Linked DNA regions of Homo sapiens: region 1 is linked to region 2. Evidence: fine-mapped expression QTL. A gene starts in region 2. The other region holds a variant in brackets. All regions are shown on one strand. Distances are between the middles of the regions.

Region 1 (5,389 bases), 29 kb after region 2:
TCAGGGATAAGAACCCCTTCCCCTCCCTTGTCCAAGTGTGCGCTCATCGTTGCTCCATCTGTAAGGGTGCACCCTTCTATAGAAGTACCTTGCCTTGCTGAGAATTAAAAACAAACATTTATTTTCGAGTACTATTTCTTTTGTGGCACTGAAACTTTATAACACAGTAAAAGAGCCAGCCAAAACCCCCCAAAACCAAAATGGCAACGAGAGTGACTTCTGCTCTTCCTCACTGCTACATTCCCACCAGCACCATGACAGTTTACAAATGCCATGGCAACATCAGGAAGTTACCCTATATGGTTTAAAAAGGGGAGGCATGAATAATCCACCCCAAATAACCATAAAAATGGACAACCAGCAGCTCCCGGGGCTGCTTTGTCTATAGAGTAGCCATTCTTTTATTCCTTTACTTTCTTAATAAACTTTCTTTCACTTTGCACCACGGACTAGCCCTGAATTCATTCTTGCACGAGATCCAAGAACCCTCTCTTGGGGTCTGGATCGGGACTCCTTTCTGGTAACAATATGACTAAACATACAGCTGTGCACACACACAGAATAAAAAATCTTGCAAATCAGTATTATTCCACAAAATGTATTGATATTTTCTGTATTATTTTATTCTATTCCATTATTTCATTTTTTAAAAAATATTGGTTAGGACCCACTAAATAGATTGCATAATCCCTTAATCAGTATCTAACACTGGCATTCAAGGAAGAGAGTAGACTCTGAGAAGTGTAGACTGGGATCCAACTGAAAGGGGCTTTAAATGTCAGCCTCTTGACAGCATATGATAAATGCCTCTTAGTAGTTCATAGTTGGTGCCACTGCCATCAGGGCCCTAACAAAGTACAGACTATATACCAAGTGTTTCCCTAGAACTCTGAATTCTCTCTGTCAGTAGTTCTCAACTGAGGTTGGCTTTGCAACCCAGACTCATTCCAATTACCTGCTGCACCCTGACTCATTCCCAATTACCTGCTCCACCCTGATTCATTCCGATTACCTGCTCCACCCTGACTCATTCCGATTACCTGCTCCACCCTGACTCATTCCGATTACCTGCTCCACCCTGACTCATTCCGATTACCTGATGCACCCTGACTCATTCCGATTACCTGCTCCACCCTGACTCATTCCGATTACCTGATGCACCCTGACTCATTCCGATTACCTGATGCACCCTGACTCATTCCGATTACCTGCTCCACCCTGACTCATTCCGATTACCTGCTCCACCCTGACTCATTCCGATTACCTGATGCACCCTGACTCATAGGTGTCATAATAATGTTGGGCAGTGTCTGGAGATATTTTTGCTGTTACGACTTGGAGGGGGGGCTGTTGTTGGCATCTAGTGGGTAGAAACCAGGGATGCTGCTGCTAATCATCCTGCAATGCACAGGACACCCCCCCAACAACGATGAATTATCCAGCCCAAAATGTAAGTGCAGAGGTTGAAAGATCCTGCTCTGGCTGGATCTTCTCTCAGTCAGTTGTGTCCAGCAGTTCAATCTCTTTTGAAATCCTTCCCCAGCTGTGTCCTCCCTGTGCTCCAAAACTATGCCTCTCCTACCTGGTGTAAAACATCACAAGCTCTTATGAATTAGGCTTTTGATAAGTGATGGCTGCATTAAAAAGAGTGTATTATATAGTGAATCTGAAAGTGGTGATTGTGGATATGTGCAAAAGATCATCTTGGCACACGGTGGCCTATTCCAGGTTGCCACTGCCAGACTACTAAACAAGCAAATCTGCAAATTGTTTCAAATCTCCAGAACTACAGGGTAGCTAATTTCTGTCATCTAAACATGCATTTTAGTTTGGTAGATTTTACTGCAATCACATTTAAAGTACATTTAAAGATCATTTGAACAGGGCATAGGTAGTACTGGTCCAGTGAAAACTGAAAAGATAATGACTTCCACATTATAAAGCTGTTTAGAAGCTCTTTTTGTGCAAAAAATAATTTTACCAGTGTCTCTAATCCTATGTGGTCCATTGTAGGGCACTAGAAAGCAGCTTAAAGGTAGAAGGAATAGTCAGTAACCAGCGTCTGTTGTTTCTACAAATAACTAGCATAAAATATACCACATGTATGGGAAATAATATCTAATTAAAGCCAACATGGGACAACTTTCTGGGAGGCCCAGGCCACATTCACAGGGCCAGCTCATTGGAGTGGGGGTAGGGATAGAGTGGTGGTGGCGGTTAGTGTCAAAGGATGGAATATGAAAATAATCTATTTTAGCCTCCATATTGGGGGGAGAGGTCTTTGAAAAACATGAATATGTATTGTTAATAATTCTAGAATAAAGGTTTTTTAGGTTTGTGTATAGTATCTCTTCTGGTTTCATTGGAACATGAAAAGTACCTATAAAAATAAACTCCAGGAAGTGGAAGGTAAACTACAAAGGGAGTTTTAAATGTAAAAATTAGAACCTCTGCCCCTTCAAACTAAAACAGCTTCACTGTGGAAAATACTCTGATCTTAATTTCTGTGCTGCAATATGCAGTCTCTCCCCAACCCTAAGAGAGACTGGCGTAGTGGTGAGGAAAGGTCTTAGCACACCAAAATTCGGGAGCTTGAGTAGTTAAGAACGGTATCAGAGAGAGAAGGTTCCAGATGAGCACGTTCCAAGGAACAAACACTTGAAAGTGAAAAACTATTTACTAACCAGTGACTTGTTCCTTCTGTATTTGTATGGTCTTACTGCTGAGGCAAAGGCATGTAAGTTAAAAAAAAAAAAAGCCACAATTTTATGAAATGCTGAACTTCTTTGTGTTTGGCACATGCTAAGCACTCTATATGGCATGTAATCATCACAATAGTTCTATGAGGTAAGTACCACTGGCATTCCTATTTACAGATGAGAAAACAGACTTACAGAGATTATTTGGTTTAATTAAAAGACCAAACTAGGTTTGGAAATCGTGTTTTGACTCTAGAAGCCATGTAATTAATCACCCTCGGATATGCAGGACATGGAATTCTTTCAAACACTGACAATGGTTTATTTTATGATGGGCTCAAAGTAAAGGGACTTGTTAAGGTGTGGATGGTTGAAACGTTGGATATCAGTGAGTTTCTTTTTATTTTCTTTTTATTTATTTATTTTTTTTGAGACGGAGTCTTGCAGTGTTGCCAGGCTGGAATGCAGTGGCGCGATCTCTGCTCACTGCAACCTCCACCTCCTGGGTTCAAGTGATTCCCCTGCCTCAGCCTCCTGAGTAGCTGGGACTACAGGCGCCCACCACCACGCCCAGCTAATTTTTTGCATTTTTTAGTAGAGACAGGGTTTCACCATGTTGGCCAGAAT[G/A]GTCTCGATCTCCTGACCTCATGATCCACCTGCCTCGACCTCCCAAAGTGCTGGGATTACAGGCCTGAGACACCACACCCAGCCATCAGTAAGTTCCTTTTTATCTTTTTCCCAATCCTATTCATTTTACTAAGCAATCTATTATAGAAGCTAGTTATAACATAGAAATTATATTTCCCAAATCCTGTGATCTTACACAGGCAAGTTACCTAGTATATAATAGGATATATATATATATATATATATATATGCAGTGGGTAACTTGATAGGCTATATATATATATAGTGTGAGGAGGCAGAGTATGTTAAATGTTTTGGTTTTGGCATCTCACTGAGTGAGCTGTATTGTCAGTAGTAGCAGAGTCCTAATGAAATCTGTCTCCAAAATGGCTGTGATTTCCACTAGATGAGCCATTATAGCTACTATTTATGGTACTCTGAAAGACACTCTTTTGGTCAGACTTCAATGAGCTGTGGAGTAACGGTGGATGCAAACTCCTTTCTTTGCCTACTGGTCTCCTGATTTGAGGAGCCAGAAGGACTAGAAGGCAGCTGCAGACTAAAAGCTAATGTGACTCTCGTTCTGCTTGAAAGCAGCATTTCCTTTTTGGGAACCAAGACTTCTATACCCATAGATCCTAGACTTGTGAGGACCAGAAGCACAAATTTCCCAAGTGGATCACTGGGAGAAGTGGGGCCGCTCCTACTTTTACCTCTTGATGCCTCGACTTACGGAGTCTACCTACTGGAGACACAGCACCATATATTTGTTATAATTAGGGTATATGTTACATCCTATAGAATATGTCCCTCTTCACAAGGTATCATCTCCAAGCTGGTGTTCAGGTGTCCCTTTAAAAGGCCATTTCATTACTCTATCAATCTAGCAGCTTCTAGGTTTCGGGGCTTGTGACAAGACCAGTCAATCAGTCTCATTGATCTGTATTCACTGCTGTACCTCCTTTGTTGTAAAGTGAATTCCTTGGTCCTTTGTGAGGTTATGTAGGATCCTAGGTAGGTGGATCAAACCCTTTGTAGGTCCTTGGATAGTGTTGTTGGCTGAGGCCATGCAGCCAGGAAAGGAAAGTTCATATCCAGAATATGTATCAATTCCAGTCAGAATTAATTTGCTCCCTATTCAAGATGGAAGGCATCCAAAGTTACTTGCCACCAAGTGGCTGGTTTCCTCAAGCGAAGGTGCTGAATCAGGGGCTGAGCCTTGCTCTCTGTTACTGGTAGATGGGATATTTGACACAAGCAGTAGCTCAATCAGCCTTGGTGAGCAGAAGCCCCTGCTGTTAGGACCATGTGCAGCCTCCATCCCTGTCACTATGGCTTCTCTACTCAAGTTCCTATTGTGCCAACACTGCAGTGGCCAATAACAGAGGCAGAGTGACATTCTAGTGAGTCTTTCTGTCTATTTGATTGTGTAAGCACCTCTTTGTGATAGATGCTCTCTGTCAGGTAACATACGATTCAGACTTTTCAGATACCAAACAAAAAGAAAGATTGTATTTTCATGCTTATTCCCATAGATTCACCCACATGCCTCCTATCCAAACCTCCTTGTTCCTGATCTTCTGATCCATTAACTAACCAGCCAAGCCATTAGCTATTGCCTATGCTTCCATAAGTACTCTTACCTTGGGCCACTTTTACTTTCATACCCAGTGGATGCCCATGTGCACAACTCAAATGTTCTGCCCATTGGAAGCGTTTCTCCTCACCATTGTCTTACCCAGGAGCTGAGGGAAAGGCATTGGTCAACAGTGGAAAACGAAACTGGGGCCAGGACTTGTGCAGCTAACGTGTGCACTCTGGCCCCATTCTTTCCCATGTACACCACTTCCATCTTAGCAGAGATCTTTGCTGGGTCTGCCTAGCCTTATGATTTTGTGGGCTGGACAGATCTCAGGTCAGTTCTGGAAGCATGATCACTTGTGTCAACCAGGGCGCAGTAGCACCCAAGGAATTGTTTTTCAAATGGTCTATAATTTTCTACTATGGGGGTCATGGCTTGGTTGCAGAATTCTAGGGGGCCTATGTTGTTATTCTCCAACTGG
Region 2 (5,389 bases):
ACATGTGTGTGCAAGTATCTTCAATATGAAAATTTATATGTTAAGATATCTTGCTTCCATCACTTCCATAGTTAATCATTTTAAATAGTTTTTTGTGTGTGTAACCTTCCAGTGTTTCCTCATGCAAATCAAGTGAATACAATTATATGCCCTTGTATTTCTCTCTTTTGTACAAGAAAAACAGTATACTATATTGCAGTTCCTCACCTGCATTTTCATTTAACAATATATTCTAGATATCTTTTCATATCAGTCCACAGATACATTTCACATACTTTTCTGCAGCTGTATAGTATTATATTGTATAGTTACACCATTGCAAAGACTTCCCCAGTTTGGTTATTTGCATGGATTCACCAGATTCCACAGAGTATATTCATATAGGCATTTACTTAAAGGCAAAGGATATGGTATAGCAAGAGAAAGAGAGTACAGGCGAGCACTGGAGGTCAGAGAGACATCCAATGTGCAAAGAAAGAAGAGCCTTTATTTGCACAAATGGCCATGCTGTGTCACCAGCTTGAGCTACTGATGTCTGTGAGAGAAATCTTTTCTAGAAAGACGTTATAGTGAAATGGCCCAACGGGTTCGCCTTGCCCACTGCCCAGATACAGCTAATGTATCAAGACAGGAGAACTGCTATAGAGAAAGAATTTAATTCACAGACAGCCAGCTAAATGGGAGACTAGAGTTTTATTACTCAAATCGGTCGCCTTGAACATTTGGAGACCAGGGCTTTTAAGGAGAATTTGGTGGGTAGGGATCAAGGAGTATGGAGTGCTGGATGAGTGGATCAAAGATGAAATCATAGGGGCTCAAAGTGGCTTCTTCTTGCTGTCTTCTTTTCCTGGGTGGGATTGCAAAACTGGTTAGGCCAGATTATCAGTCTGGGTGGCACCAGCTGGTATATCAGAACTCAGGGTCCAAAAAACATCTCAAGCACCAATTTTAGATGTTACAATAGTGATGTTATGCCTAGGAGCAACTGGGGAGGTTCAGAATCTTATGGCCTCTAGCTCCATGACTCCCTAAACCAGAATTTCTTGTATTATGGCTAATTTGTTAGTCTTACAAAGACAGTGTGCTCTCTAGGTAAGAAGGAGGTTTATTTCATGAGGGAGTTATTATCATCTTTGTTTCAATGTTAACCTATAAACTAAGTTTCTCTCAAAGCTAGTTTGGCCTATGCTCTGGAATAAACAAGGACAGATTGGAGGTTAGAAGCAAGATGGAGTTGGTTAGGTCAGATCGCTTTCACTGTCATAATTTTCCCACTGTTATAATTTTTGCAAAGGCAGTATCAAAAGGTGAAATTACTAGTAAGTCCAGTTGCAGTTTCAAACCCATAAGTCCAGAAGGCAGGCTGGTAACGCCATGGATTCATAATGACCAGTGACCAGCCCCTGCTGTGCCTCCAGTCCTACCACTTTTCTCTAATGTCTTGCTTTTTCACTATCTGCCACTATTTTCACACCTTCACCACCTTCCTCACTTATAATTTCCTCCTCCTTCCCCCTTGCCTCCTACTTCACAGAGCACACAGAAGTCAGTAATTGGGAACCACTTCAACTTTCCATACCAGACCTATCTTCATCCACACCCATCTTTTCTTCTCTCTGGACACAACAAATAACATGTGCTTCTTGTCCAAGGTCAGTTCACTCACTTAGGTTCTGAATCTTATTCTCTCTAATTTTCTTGGATATCTTATGCTTTTTTTCTTCTTCTTCTTTTTTGAGACGGAGTCTCTCTCTGTCACCCAGGCTAGAGTGCAGTGGCACGATCTTGGCTCACTACAACCTCTGCCTCCCTAGGTTCAAGGGATTCTTCTCCTGTCTCAGCCAGCCAAGTAGCTGAGATTACAGGCATGAGCCACCACACTCGGCTAATTTTTGTATTTTTAGTACAGACGGGGTTTCACCATGTTGGCCAGGGTGGTCTCGAACTCCTGACCTCGTGAAACATTTTCCCCCCGCCCGGCCTCCCAAAGTGCTGAGATTACAGGCATGAGCCACCTCGCCCAGCTATATTTTGCTATCTATTAATCTTACTCTTTCTCACTCTTACTCCAACTTTCTTTCCTCTCCCTCTCTGTCACACTCTCTCTTCTTGTTTAAACATGCTGACGTCTGTAGTTTTTAAAAAGATGCTTCCTTGATCTCCTATGCCTGCCCATCCATTATTCTATCTCCTGTATAGCAAAACTTCTTTAAAGAGTATGTGCTTTTGTTGTCTCTATTTTCTCCCCTGTTACTCTTCAAATTATTCCCAATGAAATTCCAACCCTATCATCTCTTAAAACTTCTCAGTCTAAGATCACTCTAATGTCCACATGTCTAAAGCCAAAGTTCCCACCTTATTTGGCCTCTGCAGCATTCATCACAGCGAATCACTCCCTTCTGTTTGACTTCTGGGACCATCTCCCCTTGGTTGATTCTCTCTTCTCTGGCCCATCTTTTCAGATACTTTCGTTTGCCTTTTCTTCTACCCAAACATTAAATATCGGAGTTCTTCAAGGCCTGGTCTTGGGTCATATTTTCTTCTGACTCTGTGCTCTTTCCCTGAGTGATGCCATCCTGTCCCATAGGTTCAGAAACCACACATATGCTGATGAATCCTGTGTTTATGTCTGCAACCTCAACCCCTGTATCCACTGGCTCCTTGGCATTGGTGTTGACTGTGTCACAGGCTCCTCGGTCTGAACTGGACTCAGTTCTTTCTCTCAACCTTTCACCCCGCAATATCTGCTGCTCTTCCAATTCCTCCAATATTTTCTTTCTTGGGAAATGGTATCTCCCTTCCCACCCCCAGTTGCTCAAGCCAGAAAGTTGGGAGTTAGCCATGTTTCCTCCCTCTTCTTCACTCCTCACATGGAATCAATTGCCAAGTTTATCAGTTTTACCTCCAAGATATCTCTTTAATATTCTCTCCCCTCAGTGCCTCAACACACTCCCCTGCCACGCTAACATCACCCCTGACTTCGTGCCCTGCAGAAGCCTCTTAACTTTTCTCCTGATATAGGATTGCTAATTTCGAGGCCCATCTTATCAACAGGACTGTTTACTCCATGAAGGCAAAGATAAGGGCTGTCCTATTCATCACTTTATTTACTGTTCCTGTTACACTGCTTGGCATAGTATATGCCTAATTAGTCTTTTATAAAATTTGGGAAAGAATATAAGATTCCTGAATTCCAATTAACTACGATTTCACTTTAAGCGAACACATCTTTTACTTAGCCCCAAATCCAAAAGCAAGAAAAAAATCTTCCCAATAATGAGAGCAAAAGATGTCACAAATTTATGTACTTTGCATTACTGCAGTCCTATGAAGATATCTTCAGAACCTTGGAGCACAGGAGGGATATGGATGGGGAAATCATGTTGCTTGCTCCTATCACACAGCTGTTTGGTGGAAGAGTAGTATCTAGAACTCCAGGCTTCCCGCTCCCATTCCAGTCCCTTTTTCCCTCATTGTCACAGATAGGACCTATTAATGCAGCAATATACACAAAATTAATCTTACTGTCCTAAGAACTTTATTTAGCTTCCCCTGGAAATCCTGGAATTCTGCCTAGGTTATAACTATCATTCACCAGGAGCAGCAGGCTATAAACAGGTAGAAGTGGGAGTAGAAACTAGCACACTGAGTAGTAATGAGGTTACCCTGAGTTGTCCAGGACAAAATCAACAGAGGTATTTGGTTATATTCTGCCTACCCTGTTTTAGGAGAATGAAAAATGTAAGATTTTCTCACAGAAATAGTTAACATAAAAAATTGGAGGTGGGGTAGGGTTCTTGCCTACAAAATTTATTTAGGTAGAGCAGTTCATTTTTCCTGGGAATACCTGATAAACTACAAGTTATTGTTTAATGGAAAAAGTTACAAATTCAATGAACAAGTTTTGACAGTCCACTTTCTCCTCTTTGTTCCAACTCTATTTATTACCATGGAAGTTATATCTACTAGCATAGATTCAGCTTCAAGAATGTTATTACTAAGGCCAAGAATCACTTTCAAAAACTAGAGGACTGGAGAAGATAAGATTAATGCATATAATTAAAATGTTTAAATCCAAATTAAATCTATCTTCGAAGATAAAATCAAAAGGTCTATGATTTCCCGTGCTTTTTGGCTGTGATTATGTAATCCATTTTCCAATTATTATCCAATGGCTTTATAACTCATAAGGCTGATTGTTGATTTATATCACGGGTTATTAAAGCATGTATATTTATATATATACCCATATATATATATGGCTAATTTTACCCCACTGTTTTTATTTTCAGCACAACACCACTGCTTCATACATTTTTTTTCTTCCTAGGACTCAGGTTAGCTTTTCTAAGTGTTCACACAGGCTTGAATTAGCAAGAATTATAATTGTTACAACTATATTGAGGTCATAAAGTCCCTACAAACTAGGCAGCTCCACTTTACTTGATCTACTTAGTCTGCAGTTCTGCTCGAAAGGTGCAATTGCATCAATTGCTACATAAGAGATGTTTGGACACTTCTATAGTGCCATGAACATTATAAACTAGAAAAATATGTTCTTAAAAATGTTCTTTGTTACAGAAGCGTTTCTACCTAATCTTTTAACTTTCTTCCTTTCTTTGCAGAAGAAATGCTAAATCTATCGTGCCCACTTCATTAATCATGGAAAAAGAGGCTGGTGATCAGCTTGACAAATTGTAACCAATGTGCTGGTTCTACCAATGTATGTAGCAGAAGAGCATATATATTGCTATCTCATGTGGAGCTCTTATGTGCCACTCACTCTAGCAAGCACTTTAATGTATATGCATTTCATTTACTCCTTAAAACAGTTCTACAGGCCTTTGTTTTTATCTCCATTGAACAAGAATGGAAACTGGGGCTCAATGAGCTTCAGCAATTTGCTTAAAAATACAGAGCTGATAACAGGCAGAGTCAGCATTTAAACCCAGGTCTCTGAGCCCTGCCTGAAGTCCATGCTACTTCCATCACTCAGCATGTGTGATGTTTAGAATCTTTCTGTTTATTCACTAATCTTAAGAATCTTTCTGTTTATTCACTAATGTTTGAAAATGGCATTTAAATGAAGCAAAAAGAAACATTTAAAATGTGCAGAATATATTTATTAAAAAAGAAAGGAAATTTTTCGATATCTTCAAGTTTCATTATTCTTATTGACCTTCTTTGACTGGCTTCCTTTTTCCTTGAAGTTACCTGATTCCAGGCTCTGCCTCAGCCAATCTCCATCTCCAGTTACACTATCAGTTCCACTTTCTCATAACGGCAGCATTCTATATTGGTTTTGTATCACACAGTTAATCTGATGGAGCAGTTTAAAGCATTCTATATTACCAAAGGGGTTATGAAACACAAATGTTGTATCCCATGG

Evidence for each region. PIP is the estimated chance that this variant, and not a neighbour inherited with it, causes the effect. A credible set is the group of variants that fine-mapping cannot tell apart.
Region 1: its variant is the best candidate, but not a certain one, in a credible set for the expression of LINCADL in visceral fat (GTEx, PIP 0.58).

What each region holds. Positions count from the first base shown.
Region 1 is chr5:115,924,723-115,930,111 of GRCh38, reverse strand. No RefSeq gene overlaps it. Among named protein-coding and RNA genes, the nearest start is that of LINCADL, 29 kb to the left of the region's middle. RefSeq lists an enhancer at 1-159. The variant G/A (reference allele first, on the strand shown) is at 3,327.
Region 2 is chr5:115,953,887-115,959,275 of GRCh38, reverse strand. It overlaps LINCADL (lincRNA adipogenesis and lipogenesis associated), which reads right to left and starts at 2,705. Exons shown (of 2, transcript NR_157226.1): 1 at 2,356-2,705; 2 at 675-847.